Linked DNA regions of Homo sapiens. Changing the gene in region 2 together with the main gene of any one other region gives a genetic interaction. Each region holds a gene or a part of one and is shown on either strand. Other genes may lie near its edges.

What was found. A genetic interaction does not mean that the proteins touch.
Region 1: of DOT1L (region 2) and NANOG, changing one suppresses a phenotype caused by changing the other (phenotypic suppression), as found in Homo sapiens cells (one study listed by BioGRID).
Region 3: of DOT1L (region 2) and LIN28A, changing one suppresses a phenotype caused by changing the other (phenotypic suppression), as found in Homo sapiens cells (one study listed by BioGRID).

Annotation. Positions count from the first base shown.
Region 1 is NC_000012.12:7,792,395-7,799,419, reverse strand, and holds the end of NANOG (homeobox protein NANOG), read right to left. Parts: intron 6,471-7,025; coding exon 6,208-6,470; intron 4,964-6,207; coding exon 4,877-4,963; intron 4,742-4,876; coding exon 4,325-4,741; 3' UTR 274-4,324; downstream 1-273. UniProt on the Homo sapiens protein: Transcription regulator involved in inner cell mass and embryonic stem (ES) cells proliferation and self-renewal. Imposes pluripotency on ES cells and prevents their differentiation towards extraembryonic endoderm and trophectoderm lineages.
Region 2 is NC_000019.10:2,166,913-2,173,937, reverse strand, and holds part of DOT1L (histone-lysine N-methyltransferase, H3 lysine-79 specific), read right to left. Parts: intron 1-7,025. UniProt on the Homo sapiens protein: Histone methyltransferase. Methylates 'Lys-79' of histone H3. Nucleosomes are preferred as substrate compared to free histones. Binds to DNA.
Region 3 is NC_000001.11:26,406,861-26,413,834, forward strand, and holds the start of LIN28A (protein lin-28 homolog A), read left to right. Parts: upstream 1-3,956; 5' UTR 3,957-4,031; coding exon 4,032-4,062; intron 4,063-4,525; coding exon 4,526-4,722; intron 4,723-6,974. UniProt on the Homo sapiens protein: RNA-binding protein that inhibits processing of pre-let-7 miRNAs and regulates translation of mRNAs that control developmental timing, pluripotency and metabolism.

The DNA.
Region 1 (7,025 bases), on a different chromosome or scaffold from region 2:
TGGTTCTTGTCCTTAGCTCTTGTGACTACGCCAGTGTTATCAGAGGACATGTAAACACTGCTACCCTTTCTACTCCACATGCACCTTATCCTAAATGGATTAATGTATCCCATCTTTTTGCCTGTTTTGTTCCATGTATTTAATTGATTTAATACGATTCTAGCATCTTAATTTGATCTGTGAGCTTTTCTGTTTCTTAATAGTTTGCTTGGTAGTATCATCAGAGGTAGTGCTACCACTGCATTGAAGTAATTTCTCAGATGCTTAACCTTCTAAAATTCTCAAGCACACTTTATTCAAGGACCACAGAGTTTACACCAACTACCCAGAAGCCAGGAATAGCTTAAGGAGAGACTCACCACCAGCAGCTTCTTTTCAATCAAGTTTCACTTCAACCTCACACCCAGGAACCCATTCAAATTCCTACATTTCGGTATCCTTAGTCGAACTAACTTCCTGTGCCGGAAGCTTTTGTCTGTCCCAGTGACTTCTTTCTTTAACAAATTCCCTTCATCTCCCCCTTGAGTCAAAGCCCATGGGGGCCCCAGGAGGCATGCAATATTTACCAAGGGCTCTCCCCCACTTTCCTGCCTCTGTCTGGCAGTTGTTTGCCTTTACTTTTAGGTTTGTAGTCACAGCCTGTATTTTTTCCTGTAGACACACCAGGTTTTCTGAACGGTAGAATTACTCAGAGTAGAATTAACCTTGTCCTTCACCCCGAGAACTGAGCTTGAAATTCACTAATCAAGGCCTGTATTCCTCCCACTTCTGAGTTTTAAATTTATATTATGAAATTCGGAAAACCCAGGCAAATTCAATCCATGCTTCTCTCCTTCAGGTACAAACTGAAATGAAAATGAAAGCTGAGAAATCAAAATAATGAATTTTAAAAACTAAAATATGGTAAAGCTACTAAAATATAGCATTGGAAGTAACACACACCTCCTTTTGGGAAAAGAAAGGAAAATTTTCTAGAGAAAGGAAGAAATGTTAAACAGAGAGCCTTGTACTATCCTTTTTGCCTAATCTCCTATTATTTTTGTTTATTTTTGAGACAGTGACGCTCTGTCGCCCAGGCTGGAGTGGGGTGGCATTATCTGGGGTCACTGCAACCTCCCGGGTTCAAGTGATTATCCTGCCTCCGCCTTCCAAGTAGCTGAGATTACAGGCGCAAACCAAGACCTCTGGCAAATTTCTGTATTTTTAGTAGAGACAGGGTTTCGCCATATTGGCCATGCTAAACTTGAACTCCTGACCTCAGGTGATCCACCTGCCTTGGTCTCCCGAAGTGCTGGGATTACAGGTGTGAGCCACGGCACCTGGCCCACTAATCTTACTGCTTTTGACTGTAGTTATTATTGTTACTTTAAAGATTATTCCAAATAGATCTCTAAATTCTTACCTGCCAAGAGGTTGAAGATTAATACTGGGTGATTAAAAAAAAAAAAGTTCAGAAAACATAATACAGGGCTAGGCTGGTGACTCATGCCTGTAATCTCAGCACTTCGGGAGGCCAAGGCTGGTAGACTGCTTGAGCTCAGGAGTTTGAGACTAGCCAGGCCAACATGGGGAAACCCCGTCTCTCCTAAAAACACAAAAGTTAGCTGGCATGGTGGTGTGCACCTATAGTCTGGGCTATTTGAGAGACTCAGGCAGGAGGATTGCTTGAATCCGGGAAGTCGAGGCTACAGTGAGGTGAAATGGTGCCACTAAGCCCCAGTCTGAGCAGCAGAATAAGCCCGTCTTAAAAAAATAAAAAAGAAGGCTGGGCACTGTGGCTCATGCCTGTAATCCTAGCACTTTGGGAGACCGAGGAGGGTGGATTACCTGAGGTCAGGAGTTCGAGACCAGCCTGGTCAATACGGTGAAACCCCATCTCTACTAAATACAAAGAATTAGCTGGGCATAGTGGCAAATCCCTGTAATACCAGCCACTCGAAAGGCTGAGGCAAGAGAATCACTTGAACCTGGGAGGTGCAGGTTGCAGTGAGTAGAGATTGCATCATTGTGCTCCAGCCTGAGTAACAAAAGTGAAGTTCCATCTCAAAAAAAAAAAAAAAAATTGCCCAGACACGGTGGCTCACACCTATAATCCCACCACTTTGGGAGGCCGAGTCAGGTGGATCACCTGAGGTCAGGAGTTCGAGACCAGGCTGGCCAACATGGTGAAACCCCATCTCTACTAAAAATACCAAAAATTAGCCGGGTGTAATGTTGGGTGCCTGTAATCCCAGCTACTTAGGAGGCTGACGCAGGAGAATTGCTCGAACCCAGGAGGCGGAGGTTGCAGTGAGCCAAGATTGTGCCACTGCACTCCAGCCTGGGCAATAGAGAGAGACTGTCTAAAAAAACAAACGATAGGCCAGGCGCAGTGGCTCACGCCTGTAATCCCAACACTTTGGGAGGCCAAGGCTGGTGGATCATGAGGTCAGGAGTTCAAGACCAGCCTGGCCAACATAGTGAAACCCTGTCTCTACTAAAAATACAATTAGCTGGGCATGGTGGCTCACCCCTGTAGTCCCAGCTACTTGGGAGGCTGAGGCAGGAGAATCACTTGAACTCGGGAGGCGGAGGTTGCGGTGAGCCGAGATCGCTCCACTACACTCCAGCCTGGGCAACAGAGTAAGACTCCAGTCTTAAAAAAAAACAAAATAAAACAAAAAAAAAACACTTGGAATTAGACTGGATAGTCTTAGTAACATTGGACAATTGGGGAAATAATGAGAGAAAAGACTGGAAAAAACCACTCTGATAACCTGCATCATGCTGCTTCAGAGTGAAGGGACGTGCTCTCAGATCAGATACATTTAGGGCAGGCACAAGATGGGAAAAGGACAGTAAAGGATTATTAGTATAATTCACAGATGCCTGCGTAGCTGCTCTTAAGGTGAGAACATAAATCTGTTTCAACTAGCCTTAGAATTTACTTACATATAGGCCTCTGATGAAACTTTAAATGTTAGCATCAATTACAGATTCATACACGGAAATAACCCATTACATTTGTAGATGCACATGTACAATGCACGTAAGTGCCCTTTTTTCTAAAACTGGCATATTTATTATTCATTCATTCTAAAACTGGCATATTTATTTATTATTCATTTATTTACTTATTTATTTATTTATTTTTGAGATGGGAGTTTTGCTCTTGTCGCCCAAGCTGGAGTGCAGTGGTGTGATATTGGCTCACTACAACCTCCACCTACCAGGTTCAAGCGATTCTCCTGCCTCAGCCTCCCAAATAGCTGGGACTACAGGCATAGGCCACCACGCTCAGCTATTTCTATGCATTTCTAAGATAGCAGTGTCCTCAGCTAATTTCCTTCTCCACCCCAACCAAAAATTTAACAAAGATTTATGTTTAAGCTGTATATTTACTCATTGAAACACTCGGTGAAATCAGGGTAAAATCAACTAAAGGAAAAATAGTTGTTTCATTCATTTGAACTTAAACCAACTAAAGCAGTACTCATGTCATTACGATGCAGCAAATACGAGACCTCTTTCTACAAAGATTAGCACAACCAACAAATTAGGGGATATAGCAAAACAGAGCCAAAAACGGTAAGAAATCAATTAAGTATGTTACAGCTTAACCCTTTACCTCAATAGTTTTTAAAAAATAAGCAAAGCCTCCCAATCCCAAACAATACGAATACATCTTCATCACCAATTTGTACTTGTATTTCTTATTCTTGAGGTTAGATTCTAAACCCTAAAGATATCCAAACTAGTATTAGATCTACTTATCTATAGCCAGAGACGGCAGCCAAGGTTATTAAAATGTCTTTTCTAGGCAGGGCGCGGTGGCTCACGCCTGTAAATCCCAGCTGTTAGGGAGGCCGAGGCGGGTGGATCACAAGGTCAGGAGATCGAGACCATCCTGGCTAACACAGTGAAACCCCGTCTCTACTAAAAATACAAAATATTAGCCGGGCGAGGTGGCGGGCGCCTGTAGTCCCAGCTGCTCGGGAGGCTGAGGCAGGAGAATGGCGTGAACCCGGGAGACGGAGCTTGCAGTGAGCCAAGACCGCGCCACTGCACTCCAGCCTGGGCGACAGAGCAAGACTCCGTTTCAAAAAAAAAAAAAAAAAAAGTATTTTCTCCAGGAAGATCCAATAGGAAAAAAAAAAAAAAAGAAACCTCGCTGATTAGGCTCCAACCATACTCCACCCTCCATGAGATTGACTGGATGGGCATCATGGAAACCAGAACACGTGGTTTCCAAACAAGAAAAATCCTATGAGGGATGGGAGGAGGGGAGAGGAAGGATTCAGCCAGTGTCCAGACTGAAATTGAGTAATATCAGTTTCACTCATCTTCACACGTCTTCAGGTTGCATGTTCATGGAGTAGTTTAGGAATAAATCCATGGTTTGTGGAGTACTAAAATACCTAGTGGTCTGCTGTATTACATTAAGGCCTTCCCCAGCAGCTTCCAAGGCAGCCTCCAAGTCACTGGCAGGAGAATTTGGCTGGAACTGCATGCAGGACTGCAGAGATTCCTCTCCACAGTTATAGAAGGGACTGTTCCAGGCCTGATTGTTCCAGGATTGGGTGCACCAGGTCTGAGTGTTCCAGGAGTGGTTGCTCCAGGACTGGATGTTCTGGGTCTGGTTGCTCCAGGTTGAATTGTTCCAGGTCTGGTTGCTCCACATTGGAAGGTTCCCAGTCGGGTTCACCAGGCATCCCTGGTGGTAGGAAGAGTAAAGGCTGGGGTAGGTAGGTGCTGAGGCCTTCTGAAAGAGAAGGAGGGATTAACAGAAAGGGTACAAGGACAACCAGAACTGTCTGTGACTGGAGTTGTGTGTTTCAGGGATGGACAAGATTGAAAGATCACTGAAAGGAAAGAACAGAATGAAGTTTCCTGTTACCTGCGTCACACCATTGCTATTCTTCGGCCAGTTGTTTTTCTGCCACCTCTTAGATTTCATTCTCTGGTTCTGGAACCAGGTCTTCACCTGCAGGAAAAAATGATAGAAATTGTAAAATATTCATAATACAGAGGTACTTTGAATCAAAGTATATTGCTAACTTTTATTCCTGGCCAGGTGCCATATCTCATGCCTGTAATCCCAACACTTTGGAAGGCCAAGGCGGGCAGATTGCTTGAGCCCAGGAGTTCGCTACAGGCTAGCCAACATGAGGAAACACCGTGTCTACAAAAATACAAAAAATTAGCCGGGTGTAATGCTGCACGTCTGTGGTCCCAGCTTCTCAGGAGGCTGAGACGGGAGGATCGCTTGCACCTGGGAAGTGAAGGCTGCAGTGAGCCAAGATTGCATCACTGCACTCCAGCTGCGTGACAACAGAACCAGACTGTCTCAGAAAAAAAGAGAGAAATGAACATTTTGGATAGAAAATAAAGGCAAGGGCCGGGTGTGGTAGTTCACACCTGTAATCCTAGCACTTTAGGAGGCAGAGGCACGTGGATCACTTGAGGTCAGGAGTTGAAAACCAGCCTGGCCAACATGGTGAAGCCCCATCTCTACTAAAAAATACAGTAAAATTAGCCAGGTGTAGTGGCGGGCGCCTGTAATCCCAGCTACTTGGGAGGCTGAGGCAGGAGAATCCCTTGAACCCAGGAGGTGGAGGTTTCATCCATTTGTACTTAAACCAAGTAATGCTAATGTCATTATGATGTCTCATTATGAGGCCACTGCACTCCAGCCTGGGAGACAGAGTGAGACTCCGTCTCAAAAATAAACAAAAGAAAAGAAGGAAATAAAGCCTAGAAGAGGATAAGCCAATTAATGAAGGAAAATGGCCAACAAGTAATAAACAATGATTGGCCTTATTGAATGCACACAGATAAAAAACAAAACAAGCTGGAGTTGCTGGCAGAAAGAAAAAAAGGAAAAAAAAAGTTTTTATTTTAATGAGAACCAGTGTGAGTTAGGGTTTCTCCTACCCTGGTAAGTGGAGTTAGATACTTCTTTTTTATTAAGGAAACGTTGGAAAGATTTTCACAATATTGGTCTGTGCAAGAAAGTGGTTAAATTATGACATAATTATTCACATAATAGAATATTTAAGGAAAGAAAGAGGTGAAGGAAGTTACAAAAGCATTTCATCTTCATAAATTATTTGCAAGAGGCGATGTACGGACACATAGTACACACATCTACATGCATCCACAGAGGTCTTAGCCATGCAAATTAGTCCAATTTTTGTTCACCTTATTCCAAGGACAAAACAAGCCTACCTGTTTGTAGCTGAGGTTCAGGATGTTGGAGAGTTCTTGCATCTGCTGGAGGCTGAGGTATTTCTGTCTCTGAAATCTATCATTGAGTACACACAGCTGGGTGGAAGAGAACACAGTTCTGGTCTTCTGTTTCTTGACCGGGACCTTGTCTTCCTTTTTTGCGACACTCTTCTCTGCAGAAGTGGGTTGTTTGCCTTTGGGACTGGTGGAAGAATCAGGGCTGTCCTGAATAAGCAGATCCATGGAGGAAGGAAGAGGAGAGACTGTTGGGAACAAATAAAAGGACACTTTTGTCTAAAATTTTTCAAATATTAAAATATCCTTTAAAAAAATTGTTTTCAAAGTACTTTGATAATTCCCAGAACCCCAGATCTAAGTAATAAGAAGCAATTTCTTAAGCAGCCCTGGCACTTTGGCAAGCTTTATATAGTATTACTCCAAGAAGTCTTATCAGTATCTCCATTTTGTACATAATAGACTGCGTTGGGAGAGATCTATAATGGTGGCCAATGCATTGCTGAGCGGCGCTACCCCTTTTTTTTAAAATTAGGATGGAGGTTCACTCTTGTTGCCCAGGCTGAAGTGCGATGGTGCAATCTCGGCTCACTGCAACCTCCATCTCCTGGGTTCAAGCGATTCTCCTGCCTCAGCCTCCTGAGTAGCTGGGATTACAGGCAGGCACCATCACGCCTGGCTAATTTTGTATTTTTAGTAGAGACAGGGTTTCTCAATGTTGGTGAGGCTGGTCTCGAACTCCTGACCTCGTGATCCGCCTGCCTCGGCCTCCCGAAGTACTGAGATTACAGGTGTGAGCCACC
Region 2 (7,025 bases):
AGGAGTTCCCTGGAAACAGTCAAAGCAACTCGACACTGGAGGGGCTCAGGAGGGCTGAGGCCACCCACACAGGCTGCTGTGAAGCTGTGAGAGGAAGCTCAGCTCACCAGGCCTCTGGTTTCATAAAACACAACCGGAGCGACCCCGTCTTGAAGTGCGTAGTGAGGCACTCGCAAGGTACCGGGAAGGTTCACACTTATGAGCTGCCCACCAAGGACACAGAGCATCTATGGGTCTGGGGGAGGTCTTCCGGGCAGCCCGCAGAACCCGTGCCCGCTGTACTGAGAGGGCCGGTGAGCAGGCTGGGCTTGAAGGGTGGTCGGATGGCACCACCCGGCTGGCCTCCAGTGAGTGTCTGCACGTTCCAGGTTTACTCGCAACCCTGGCCGTTTCTCACAGACGGAGGCGCTAAGGAAGAGCAGGCACCCTCTGCCTGCTCCCCGAGGACGCCCTGCTCTGTCAGGGAGGCCCGCTGTGTAAGGAAGCGGCTTGGTGGCTGCTCTCACTGTGATCCGCGGCTCACCTCGAGTTCTCTCCTCTCTTGGGGTCTGCATCAGGACCCTCTTTTTCCAGCAGCAAAGCAACACAGGAGGGAGGCTGGACGCGCTGACCAGAACTCTCCTCGCCCTCGTCTGAGCACAGGCTGACAGACACCGACCCTCTAGCCTGAGGCCAAAGCCACAGCGTGACAGGGAAGGAGGAAAGCGCGGGACTCGTGGGCCTCCTAAAGCCACAGCGTGACAGGGAAGGAGGAAAGCGCGGGACTCGTGGGCCTCCATGCAGGGAAAAACGCTCCAGGACGCTAGGGGAGACCAGCACTGACTGCTGAGGCGGCAGCGTTTCCTTTTGGGGTGATTAGAACGTTCTGGAATTAGACAATGGTGACGACTGCACAATCTGTGAATATACTAAAACACACTGAAATGTACACTTAAAACGGGTGAACTTTTTTTTTTTTTTTGAGATGGAGTCTCGCGCAGTTGCCCAGGCTGGAGTGCAGTGGCACGATCTCAGCTCACTGCAAGCTCCGCCTCCTGGGTTCATGCCATTCTCACGTCCAGCCTAAAACAGGTGAACTTTATGATACGTGAACTGTCACAACAAGGATGTTATTTCAAAAAAAAGAGGAAAAATATTGCCAGGCGCAGTGGCTCACGCCTGTAATCCCAGCACTTTGGGAGGCAGGGCAGGCAGACCACGAGGTCAGGAGTTTGAGACCAGCCTGATTAACATGGTGAAACCCCGTCTCCACTAAAAATACAAAAACTAGCTGGGCCTGGTGGCACACATCTGTAATCCCAGCTACTCGGGAGGCTGAGGCAGGAGAATGGCTTGAACCCAGGAGGCGGAGGTTTCAGTAAGCCGAGATGGCGCCACTGCACTCCAGCCTGAGTAAAAAGAGTGAGACTCTGTCTTCAAAAAAAAAAAAAGAAAGAAAGAAAAGTGGCTGGCCGGGCACGGTGGCTCACACCTGTGATCCCAGCACTTTGGGAGCCCAAGGCGGGTGGATCATGAGGTCAGGAGATCGAGACCATCCTGGCTAACATGGTGAAACCCCATCTCTGCTAAAAATACAAAAAATTAGCTGGGCGTGGCGGCGGGCGCCTGTAGTCCCAGCTACTCGGGAGGCTGAGGCAGGGGAATCACTTGAACCCTGAAGGCGGAGCTTGCAGTGAGCAGAGATCGCGCCACTGCACTCCAGCCTGGGCCACAGAGCGAGACTCCGTCTCAAAAAAAAAAAAAAGGAAAGAAAAGAAAACAAAAAAGAAAAGTGCGTCCGAGGAGTGGGAGCTGCATGCTGTGCAGAACTCCACAGGCCCAGAGAGCCTCCAAGTGAGTTTCAGTCACTCCCTCCCAGGGCCTTCTTTCCTCCCCTGGGGTTTCCACACTAGCTGATGAATTACCTACAAGGTTATCACTATTTGCACAATGTGACCATCTGTTATCTTCACGTCCCTGGAGTCTGAGATACCAGGAAGGACGTGGAGCCGGGCAATCACTTCTGTGATTCCAATGCAAAAGCCGCCCCTTCTTTTCTCCAGGAAGCCCCACTTGTAACTGCCGCGCATACATTCTGGGCACTTGAATCTGTGTCTCCAGAGCTGCAGCCCGCAAACGAGGCCCAAATACACTCCCATTACGCTAACTTCACCTCAGGTCCTTCCCTCAGGGGGACACAGTGGGCGGGGACTGCACGCAGCAAGCCTGGATCTTGGCCAGGGCCTGCCGGACATGCATGGTCCCAGGAAGCACTCAGGAAATAAAAGCAGGGCTACCCCCAGGAGAAGGCATGTACACGAACACGGAGCGACACCCGGCGGCGGTCGGTGCCCGGGACCCCAGGCGATGAAAGGCACAGCTCTTGGCGTCTCCTGGCCCGCCCTCGGTGGTGGGGCTGCCCCAAGCTCTGTGAGTGATGAGCAGCATCCTTGGGCTTCCCCCACCCCGGTGGTGACAACCGCAAAGGTCTCTAGACGCCACCAGGTGTCCCCTGGGGGCAGAGCCACCTCCACCCCTGAGAACTGCTGTTTGAACCTTCCAGGGCCAGGAATTCATTCTTTCAGCCTACAGGCAGGAAGAAGAGGGCTCAGTACAATTCGGGACCAGAAGGGCTCAATGCAGGGATCCTCCAGGTAAAAGGCTCTGCCAGTGCCACAGCATTCTCGCAGTCCTTCCCCTGGAGGACTCCTCTGGGGCCCCTGCTGTACCTTAGACCCCACCACACAGCCTGAGGCTGAGGCCCAAAGCTTATCAAAGTTACCACTAGCCTGGGGCAACACAGCAAGGCCCCACCAAAAAATACAAAATTTAGCCAGGCGTGGTGGCTCATGCCTGTAATCCCAGCTACTCAGGAGGCTGAAGGAAGAGAATCCTTTCAGCCTGGGAGGCGGAGAATGCAGTCAGCAGATATCGAGCCACTGCACTCCAGCCTGGGTGACAAAGCAAGACCCTATCCCAAAAATAATGAGAGAAACAACACTCTAAAGGACAGGTTCTGGGAGACTCTTGGAGGGGGACAGGTTCCAGGAGACTCCTGGAGGGGGACAGGTCCCGGGAGACACACGTTCCGGGAGACTCCTGGAGGGAGTGGGCCCTTCCCCCATGCCTTGCCCTGAGGATCCATTTCTCAGTATTCATGGGCATCCCACAGATCGTCCTTTATCATTAACCAAAGGACCTAAGTGTTTCTCGGGAGTTCTGTGAGCCACTGAGGCAATGTAATCAAGCCGAGGTAAGGGTGACGGGAACCTGGATTTACAGCCGACCGGTCACTCAGAAGCACAGGTCACAACGTGAGGCCTCTAACTGGCATGGAAAGTGGGGGAGTCTTGGGGACTGAGCCCTTACCCCGTGGGATCTGAGCCTGTGTCGAGGTAGACATGCTGGAAGTGAGTTGAATCGGGGCTGCCCAGTAGGAAACACAGAACTGATGAATCCCCGGGTACCCGTATCTGGTTCCGCAACTCCTCTGTGTTGACTGCGGAGAGCACAGGAGGAACCGTGTTGGGTCCTTCCTACACCTCACACTGCTGGAAGATAAAAACAGCTCCAAGCAGTCCGTGCCCAGTGAGGCATGCAAAATGCATCAGGTCCAGAGAGACAAGAGCAAGGATTTCAGTCACGCCTCCCAACCACACCAGGGGCAAGCGTGGAAAGGCATCTATCTGTTCCTGCATCCTGGTCTCGGACACTATCTTCCTGTTCCTGGAATCTGTAACACCAAGAGTGATTTGCAGCCATCAATGGCCAATATTACTTGAACAAAAATTCTTTTTTCCTTTATCTAATTTTGTCTGTTTGTTTGAGACAGAGTCTCACTCTGTCGACCAGTCTGGAGTGTAATGGCATGATCTCAGCTCACTGCAGCCTCCCCCTCTCGGGTTCAAGCAATTCTCCGGATTATAGGCAACCGCCACCACGCCCAGCTAATTTTTGTATTTTTGGTAAATACGGGGTTTCGTCATGTTGGCCAAGCTGGTCTCGAACTCCTGACCGCAGGTGATCTGCCCGCCTTGGCCTCCCAAAGTGCCGGGATTACAGGCATGAGCCACCGTGCCTGGGCAACCGTGTGTTTTTTTTAATTAAACTTTTTATTTTAAGATAATTGTAGATTCACACTGTCGAGCTAAAGGAAAGGAACTGGAGCAAAATTAATATAAGTGGAGCATTTATTTGGGCCACATTTGAGGACTGCAACCTGGGAGCACAGGCTCGAATTACCCCAAATATACACTCTGATGAGCAGCAGATAACAAGCAGATTTTTAAAGGAAAAAAAGAGCTGGGCGTGGTGGCTCACACCTGTAATCCCAGCTACTCGGGAGGCTGAGGCAGGAGAATCACTTGAACCCAGGAGGCGGAGGCTGCAGTGAGCCGAGATTGGGCCACTGCACTCCAGCCTGGGAGACAGAGCGAGTCCGTCTCAAAAAAAACTCTCCTCAGAGGCTAGGCTGGAGTGTCCCTGTATCATCTGCAGAGTTTCTGGACAATTCCCCGCCCCAGTACCCCCTGCAACCTCTTTCAGGCCAGCAGGAACAAAGCAGTGTGCATTTGCTATAAAACGGAACACTTGGGTTTTTTCTATTATTCCTTCCTATTTAAAGCGACTCCTTTACTCACACAAAGCTGCCTAAAGGTTAATCTGCCTCCGGGGGAGCTGGGATTACTCAGGACACTCAAGCTCAGAGGTCAGCAGCAGAAAATACCTTCTGAGTCACGGTGGGGACAGCTCACCCCGCCCCGGCTGCTACTCACTGCTGGCTGCCCACTCACCGCCGCCCACAGCCGGGCTCCAGGCCAGGCTGTCAGGCGGAACATGTACTCACTCATTAATGAGAGTCAGAGAGTCCGGACCCTTGGCCAGTGGAGGCCGCCCCTGCCCGCCCACAGCCTGTGAGTCACCAGGGGGAAGGTCCCGTTCTGTGGCCTTTGAAGGTTCTTTCCGAGCAAACAACCAATAATGCCACTTGTGCCCTTCCCACTAGAAGAAGGGCAGGGCCATCCTGCCCTAGAAATACCACGCAGGGCCAGGCACGGTGGCTCATGCCTGTAATCCTAGCACTCTGGGAGGCCCAGGCAGGTAGATGACAAGGTCAGGAGTTCGAGACCAGCCTGGCCAACATAGTGAAAACCTGTCGCTACTAAAAATACAAAAAATTAGCTGGGCGTGGTGGCGGGTGCCTGTAGTCCCACCTACTGGGGAGGCTGAGACAGGAGAATCACTTGAACCCAGGAGGCAGATGTTGCAGTGAACCGAGATCACACCGTTGTACTCCAGCCCAGGCAACAGTACGAGATTCCCTCTCAAAAAAATAAGAAATGCCATGCGGGGCTTGAGAAAAGCGGTTATCCAGGAACTCCCAGGTCATGTAAGAATAAAAATCTCCCTTCCTCCCCCTTGCGTTTGCCAATTGGGCAAACCCCTTCCGAACTGCTCATTTCCGAGCGTGGACAGTTGTGGCTATTTCTGCTTCCTCCTCCGGATGGCCCCTCCTCCAAGCAGCCACCCACAGGTCCCCCAGGGCAGAAGTGGCAGCCCCTCCCTGGGGACCTCAGCTGACCTTGTACTCAGCACAGTATCTCTGCTGAACTTCTATTTATAATCTACTTAACTTCACTGTTTTAAATTTTTTGGTAGAGATGGAGTCTCCCTATGTTGCCCTGGCTTGTCTCAAACTCCTGGGCTCAAGCAATCCTCCCGCCTGGGCTTCCCAAAGTGCAGGGACTACAGGCATGAGCCCCTGTGCCCGGCCTGTCTTCATTTGACAGGTTTCTTGAGACTAAGAATGCTGGGGCGGTGGCGGGGGGAGAATATTGGCTTGTTGTCCTCTGTGCCCCCACAACACTGAGTATTCAGTAGCTGCTGTTGGAATGAATCATGAATAAATGTGCTGCTGCAGCTGCGTCTGGGCACGGTGGTTCACGCCTGTCATCCCAGCACTCTGGGAGGCCGAGGTGGACGGATCACCTGAGGTCAGGAGTTTGAGACCAGCCTGGCCAATATGGTGAAACCCTGTCTCTACTAAAAATACAAAATAAGCCAGGCATGGTGGCACAGGTCTGTAATCCCAGCTACTGGGGAGGCTGAGGCAGGAGAATCACTGAAACCTGGGAGGCGGAGCTTGCAGTGAGTGGAGATTGTGCCACTGCACTCCAGCCTGGGCGATAGAGCAAGACTCTGTCTCAAAAAAAAAAAAAAAAAAAGAAAAGAAAAGAAAATCAGAACCACCCCTCACTTCTTGTGAGAAAGCAAAATTCCTCAACGGGAACACAGAAAATGACAAATGTCACGGCGAGGTTGTCAGAAGGCTGCCTCTGGCACTTGGGCGAATGAAGATGCTGGGCCCGGCAGTGGGCCAACCAGAGCAGGAAGAGGCCGTAGACGGCGCCAGGACCAGCACACCCTGCCAAGCCAGGGCCTGGCCAGGGAGGGAAAGACACGGCACAGTCCCGCCCACCACTAGAAAGCCCGCTCCCGCCAGCTCTCGCCCTTACTATTTACAATGGAGCACTGGCCAGGCAGGGCAGCAGGCATGCGGGCGGGGACACCAGGGCTGCCTTCACGTGAATGTTCACTTCAGTACCAAGGAAAAGGCAAAGGGTCCCTGGCAAGACCACTACCCCAGGCCCCGACGCTGGGTTCCAGTGGGTTTCTTAGCACTGACAAGTGGCAACTGTTGGGATGCAGATGTTAAACAGACGCTTAGCACAGGCCGTGCGGTCCACCCCTGAGAACCTCGCCACGCGAACACTGACTTTCACCAAAAATCCCGCCAGTGGTGTTTAGTGCGGGTTTATTCTAATCACCAAAAATTGGAAACAGCCCACAGTCCTGTGACCCACAGGCAAACACGTCAACAATCTGTGGCCCAACTGTCCAATGGATTTACAGTCAGCAAAAAAATGGGGTAACTTTTGAAACCTGCAGCAACACGGATTTGGCCGCCTGAAAGCCACCAGGACCAAAGGGCAACATGCTGTTGATTCCATTCAGCCAACTTTCTGAGAATGGCAGAACTACAGGTA
Region 3 (6,974 bases), on a different chromosome or scaffold from region 2:
TTTACATGTCAGCTGGGCACGGTGGCTCACACCTGTAATCCCAGCACTTTGGGAGGCCGAGGTGGGTGGATCACGAGGTCAGAAGTTCGAGACCAGCCTGGCCAATATGGTGAAACCTTGTCTCTACTAAAAATACAAAAATTAGCCGGGCATGGTGGCAGGCACCTGTAATCCCAGATACTTGGGAGGCTGAGGCAGGAGAATGGCTTGAACCTGGGAGGCAGAGGTTGCAGTGAGCTGAGATCATGCCATTGCACACTAGCCCGGGTGACAGAGTAAGACTCCGTCTCAAAAAAAAAAAAAAAAAAAAGAAGAAGAAGAAGAAGAAGAACTAACTACATGACAGGAACTGTTTCAAAAGCTTTGCCTACATGATCTAACTTCATCCTCACAATATCTCTGAGGCCTCAGTATTCTCATTATTCCTATAGGACAGAGGAAGAAACAGAGGAATATAGAGGTTAAGGAAGAGCTGTAAATAGTAGAGCTGACATTCGAACATGGGTAATCTGACTCTAATGCCTTGTACTCCTTTAAAAAGTGGTAATAATTAAGAAAATAAGGCCGGGAGTGGTGACTCACGCCTGTAATCCCAACACTTTGGGAGGCCGAGGTGGGCGGATCACCTGAGGTCAGGAGTTCGATATCAGCCTGGCTAACATGGTAAAACCCTGTCTCTACTAAAAATACAAAAATTAGCCAGGCATGGTGGTGGGCACCTGTAATCCCAGCTACTCAGGAGGCTGAGACAGGAGAATCACTTGAACCCAGGAGGCAGAGGTTGCAGCGAGCCAAGATCGCACCACTGCACTCCAGCCTGGGCAGTAGAGTGAGAATCTATCTCAAAAAAAAAAAAAAAAAAAAAAAAAGAAAAGAAAAGAAAAAGAAAAGAAAATTAAAAACAGAGATTAGTTTTTCTTCTACTTTGGTCTTCTTTGACTCAAAAAATATTATCTCTTCTTTCCTAACCCTTTACAGCCATATTATGGGAAGTAGGTTTCCCATTTTTCTGAAGAGGAGTTTGAGATACCTGCATCTCTCTCACAAAATCATATACTACTGGGAATCTCTCTCTCTCTCTCTTTGAGACAAGGCCTGGGTGAGTCTGTCACCCACGCTGGAGTGCAATGGCACTATCTCCTCACTGCAACCTCGGCCTCCTGGGCTCAAGTGATCCTCCCACCTCAGCCTCTCAAGTAGCTGGCATGCGCCACCACATCCGGTTAATTTTTGTATTTTTTTTAGAGATGGGGTTTCGTCATGTTGCCCAGGCTGGTCTCAAACTCCTGTCCTCAAGCAATCCTCCCACCTTGACCCCCCAAAATGCTGGGATTACAGGCGTGAGCCACCACGCCCGGTCGAAAGTGCCATTTCTTTAGCATTCAAAAAAAGTATCTTAGGCCGGGTGCGGTGACTCACACCTATAATCCCAGCACTTTGGGAGGCCCAGGCGGGCGGATCACTTGAGGTCAGGAGTTCAAGACCAGCCTGGCCAACATGGTAAACCCCGTCTCTATAAAAATACAAAAATTGGACGGGCGTGGTAGCATGTGCCTGTAATCCCAGCTACTCGGGAGGCTGAGGCACGAGAATTGCTTGAACCCAGGAGGCAGACGTTGCAGTGAGCAGATATCGTGCCACTGCACTCCAGCCTGGGTAACACAGCAAGACTCCGTCCCCCAAAAAAAGTGTCTTCATTCATCTGAAATGTGTCAGTGTTACCACAGCGGGAACCGGCATTGAGGAAAATCAGGTTTTCTGGGAAAGACTTGGAGGTGGGAACTCAAGAAGTTATTCTCAAAACTGTGAGCTGGGAATCAAGACAGCGTGACTCAATTCAGCACCGTGGACAGAGCTGCTGGAGCCCTCAGGACCCTGGACAGAGAAGCAGGCCGCGCATTCCCGGGGAACCGAATTCGCATCACTTGAGAACCCACCTAGAGAAGCCAGAGCGTTCAACTCCCCTTTCCCTCCCTTTTCTTCAGCCAGACCTCAGCCACTTGCTCCTGAGTCTTAGGAACAGAGGTACACGGAGCGAATATATTTTAAGGGCGCCACTAACAGCGGGAGATAAGACTTTTGGGAGAGGAGAATTATGTAAATAAAAATGGCTTTGGCTGATGTACTAGGAGAACTCTTGATAATTCTAAATTAGAGTCCTCAGATGGGAGTGGGGCACTGCTAATAATATTTGTTAACGATATGTATTTTTTAGGCGGAGCAGCAAAGGGCCACTCTTGTCCTTTTTACCCCACGAAGTCCCACCTCCCATTCCTTACGCTCAAGTTTTCATTTCTTGGAGAGCACCCCGTACGAGAGAAAGGGAAATAACTTCTGCAGTCTCTTGCTTTCCTCCCCATCTTCCCCTTCCCTACCCCCACTCATCCGGTCTCTCTGAAATACACATGTGCCCACATCCGCACGTGCACACACACACACACACAAACACACACACAGAGCCACAGCGTGAGAATTCCAAAAGGTTCTGCACACTCGGTGGAGAAGATTGAATTCAGAGCAAGCGGATGCCCCCGAAAGCAGGCTCTGTCCCTTTAAATGGGTTGTAGTGGTGGGGGAGGGGAACTGGCCGGAGCTGGCATTGTCCAGTTTGAACTGAACACCGGAAGTGAAGGGGCAGGGCCAGGGCCGTGCACTGAGCCCCGGGCCATTGTCCATCTCCGACCAGGGCAGTAGCCACCCCCACTAGCCAGCCGTCTTTATCTCCTAGAAGGGGAGGTTACCTCTTCAAATGAGGAGGCCCCCCAGTCCTGTTCCTCCACCAGCCCCACTACGGAATGGGAGCGCATTTTAGGGTGGTTACTCTGAAACAAGGAGGGCCTAGGAATCTAAGAGTGTGAAGAGTAGAGAGGAAGTACCTCTACCCACCAGCCCACCCAGTCCCTCTCTCAGCAGTGGATGGGGATGGGGTGGGGGTAGGACGAGAAGGCAGCTGGTGGAGAAACAGCTTCAAGACTCTTTGGGTTCCTCCTGCTCTCCAGGGAGCTTACCTGGGGCTAACTTTAGACACACAGGTTTGGAGGGAGGAAAGAAGGAAGAATTCTTTACAACGAATCAATTAAGAGCACTTTCTCTTTTCTAACTGGGGGAGGCCCAGAAAAACTCTGAGTCAGAAACTCTGGGAGGCAGACATTCAGATGTAGTCAGAGGCAGACAGACTTTGGAAGGCAGCGCTTTGGTCAGGACAGATCAGCCCTGTGTGTCCCCAGCCTCTCCCCTGCTCCCCCATCCCGGGCTTCCCAGTGTCCAGAACTCCAGGTCTATCTAAGCACACGGGGGTGGGGGGTGAGAGCGGGTCAGCTCCAAGCAGCCGGGTCAGCTCAGAGGCCTGAGGGGGAAGAGAGGGGGAGGGGAGCTCAAGGGCTGGGGGAGGGGGAGGGCCCATTCATTTCTCCCTTGACAGGTGGTTTGTGTTTCTGATTGGCCAGCGCCGCCAGGCTCACACCTCCCTCCCCCAACTCTCTGGAATGTATAATTATCTGCCCGGGGGGTGGGGGTGGTGTGTGTGTGTGTGTGTGTGTGTGTGTGTGTGTGTGTGCAGTCACGTGGTTTTAAAACTACCCCCCCCACCAGGTCCCCCACCTGTATCTGCTTTGGGGACCCCTACTGAGTCCAAAGTGCAGGATCTCAAATTCCGGGGTACTCAAGTCTTCTAGGGCAGACAGACCCATCTCCAGTTGTGCGTGTGGGGAGGGGGTGTCAAACCTCAAGGTTCTGAGAAGGGACACCCCAGAGGTGTCAGAGACCGGAGTTGTGGGGGAGGGCCGGAGCTGGAGCCGGAGGGAAAGGGAGGGGAAAGGAGAGGGAGGGGAGGGGAGGGGGCTGCCCGCGGGGGGTTGGGTCATTGTCTTTTAGAATTTGGGAGCCTTTGAAAAGCCGTGGGCCCTCCCACCGCTATTGTGCGGGGGAAGATGTAGCAGCTTCTTCTCCGAACCAACCCTTTGCCTTCGGACTTCTCCGGGGCCAGCAGCCGCCCGACCAGGGGCCCGGGGCCACGGGCTCAGCCGACGACCATGGGCTCCGTGTCCAACCAGCAGTTTGCAGGTTCGAGCTCGGGACTTAGCGGGGACACTTTAGGATTCAGGGGCGGCCAGGAGCCACGTAGAAGGGAGGTGGGGAACTGAGTCCTAGGCTGCCCAAAGGACCCCAAGACGGTGCGGCCTTCTGCTTCATAGGGCCGTCTCTGGGGCCAGGAACCTTGGTGTCCCAGTGGCGTGCGCGCCAGACTACGTGGGTGGATGGAGAGGAGAGGCTTGTCCCGCCGTGAGTCTCTGGGAAACGCGTTGTGGGAAGAGGAGCAAAACTTTCGGGGCACTACTGTCCCGGTGTACGCTAGGGGAACGCGGGAGGCGACCGGGATAGGTTTCTTCTCTTCTGTTGCTTGGTAGCTGCCCCCTCCTGGCTGTCCACTTGTGGGGCTGGATACTCGGGTCTCCCTGCCTGGGGCCCGAGACGGCCCTCCGATTCCGTGCCCCCCAGCTAAGTGCCCGGCCCTCCCTCTCTCCAGGTGGCTGCGCCAAGGCGGCAGAAGAGGCGCCCGAGGAGGCGCCGGAGGACGCGGCCCGGGCGGCGGACGAGCCTCAGCTGCTGCACGGTGCGGGCATCTGTAAGTGGTTCAACGTGCGCATGGGGTTCGGCTTCCTGTCCATGACCGCCCGCGCCGGGGTCGCGCTCGACCCCCCAGTGGATGTCTTTGTGCACCAGGTGAGACTGATTCCGGTAACTTTGCCCAGGGAAGGGCGTCTAGGCGCCCATATCCACGGGTGGGCTCCGGGCTCGCAGTTGAATTGAGGGCCATCGGGAGCCCTCATTATGCATCCCTGTCTTTGCTTCGGCACCCCAATTCTGAGTCCCTGTTAACTATCTCGTGGGGGAGTAGTGGGAGGCAGCACCAATTATCAGCACCCCCGCCCCCTTCCGGGAACCCCTCCGGCTTACCACGTGTCTATTACCTCTTTCCCCTGGGAAGGGGCAGGGGGCAGGGAGGTGACCCCATGTGGCAGAAACTAAGGTTGTATTGTGCTTGCCGGTGGGGGGAGGGCGAGCAGGCCGGCCAGGGAAGCACATGCCGGGCCTAAGCCGGGAGCCCAGCTCCTCCAACGTCTGAATGGAGCTCAGAAGGCGGGAGAGAGTGAGGGCAACTGGCTACTGGACCCAAGGGGCGTAAAGCCGAGAAGTCAGCCTCATCCCCTTTTTAATGCAGACCTCACCTGGCTGGTCACTAAAAACTGGGTTTGGCAGATCCCTGAAGGATCCCTGTGGGGGCTTGAAAGCTCAGGACTGGGGTCTTTGCTGTCCAGTTCCCGTGAGGAAGGAAAACCCAAAGAGCCCAGGCCTTCCTTACATTCCTGGGCCAGGCTGGGAGGGAAGTCGGTAGGTCGCAACCCCAAGTTCTCAGTTAAAGCAGGGCAGCACAGTAGGGGGTGAAATTCAGTGTCGCAGGGCAGGGGGTGAAGGGAGGCTGGCCTCTGGTCCTATTCTCCGCTTGGCATTTATGGCCCCAGACAGCCATTGATTGCTGTCTTAACATTCCTGGCCTCAAACAAGGAGCCAGAGACTTCAGGTCTCCCTCCTCCCAGGCTTCCCCTTCCTGAATATCCTAGAGGCATTCCGGTGGTCCTGGGCCACCAGCTACCCATAAAGACCATGGAAAGGAAGTTGCTTGCTGCCTATGGCCCTTCCATCTTTGGAGGTTTGGGACTGGATCTGGAAAGAAGAAATTGCTAATCCCAGATCGTGTAGGTTGACACCCAGGCCGGGCAGGGAGGGGTTACTTAAGGGAGGTTGGCTTTAGGAGGTGTGGGGGAGGGGAAAGGAGGATGTGGGGATTAAGGGTTGGAGCCTGAAGGGATGGCATTCTTTGGGGGAGGGGTAGAGAAGGGAGATGCTGGATGGACTAGTTGGAGGCAGCAGGGACGTCTTTGAGCACAGCCTTCAGTGAGGAACAAACAAGGGAAATAGACGCAGGGAGATGGGGAGCCACCACTTACTGTTGGGGCCATGGGGTCAGTGGGCTACTTGAACATCTGCCAAGAGGACCTGCAGCAGGATACTGAGCTGCCCCTTTGCAGCACCCTTATTCCCCCAACCCCCCATTAGACAGCTAGTTTCCCACTAGTGGCTTTTCTCCCTTCTCTGTCTCATTTACATATGTGAATGATAACCCACAGGAAGTAATTGTGGGAGAAAGAAGGGAATTGGCCTTTTTAGATCTATTAAATCACTTTATTACAGGAACCAGCTTTGAATGGCCCTCCTCAGCAGGGTAGCAAGCCTCCCCCACTCTCCCATTTATCTGATCACAAAGAGATTAAAATCTTTCCTGGTCTGGGGACTGGACAGCTCCCCCAACTTTGGGAGGCTGGAATAAAAGAGTCAGACCCAACGTTTTCTCATCTCCCATCCAAAGGCTGCCAGATAGGGAGGGGCTGAGGGGAATGTATCCCCTCATCTTCTGGGTTCCTTGGTGATATACATACCCCAAGGAAGGTGTTTTCTTGTTTTGTTTGTTTGTTTGTTTGAGCAAATGGGGACTTGGGCCTCAGCAGGCTTCACCTTAGGATCTAGAGCAATTGGGAAACTATTGGATGGCATAGAGCAGGCATTGAGTCTACACCATGCTGGGTCAGATGTGCTGGCTTGGAAATACTCTGGATTTTAGGCTCTTGGAACATCCAGGAACCCATAGTTGAGTAAGTTGTCAATAGGGAGCTGAGCTGGAAGAGAATTAAGAATTTGTCTCTCTAATCCCCAGCTCTTCCCATTCTACTCACAAAGCACAATGATGGGTGGAAATTCCCTGAGCCTTTACCTGGTAGCTCTGATAATGGTAGCATGCCAGAAAGGCTTGGGTCAGGGGTCCTCCAACCCCACCTTAACCGTAAGTTAGATTAGTGATTCCAGTCTTTGCACTTGTTTTTTTGTTTGTTTGTTTGTTTGTTTGTTGCTTTTTTTTT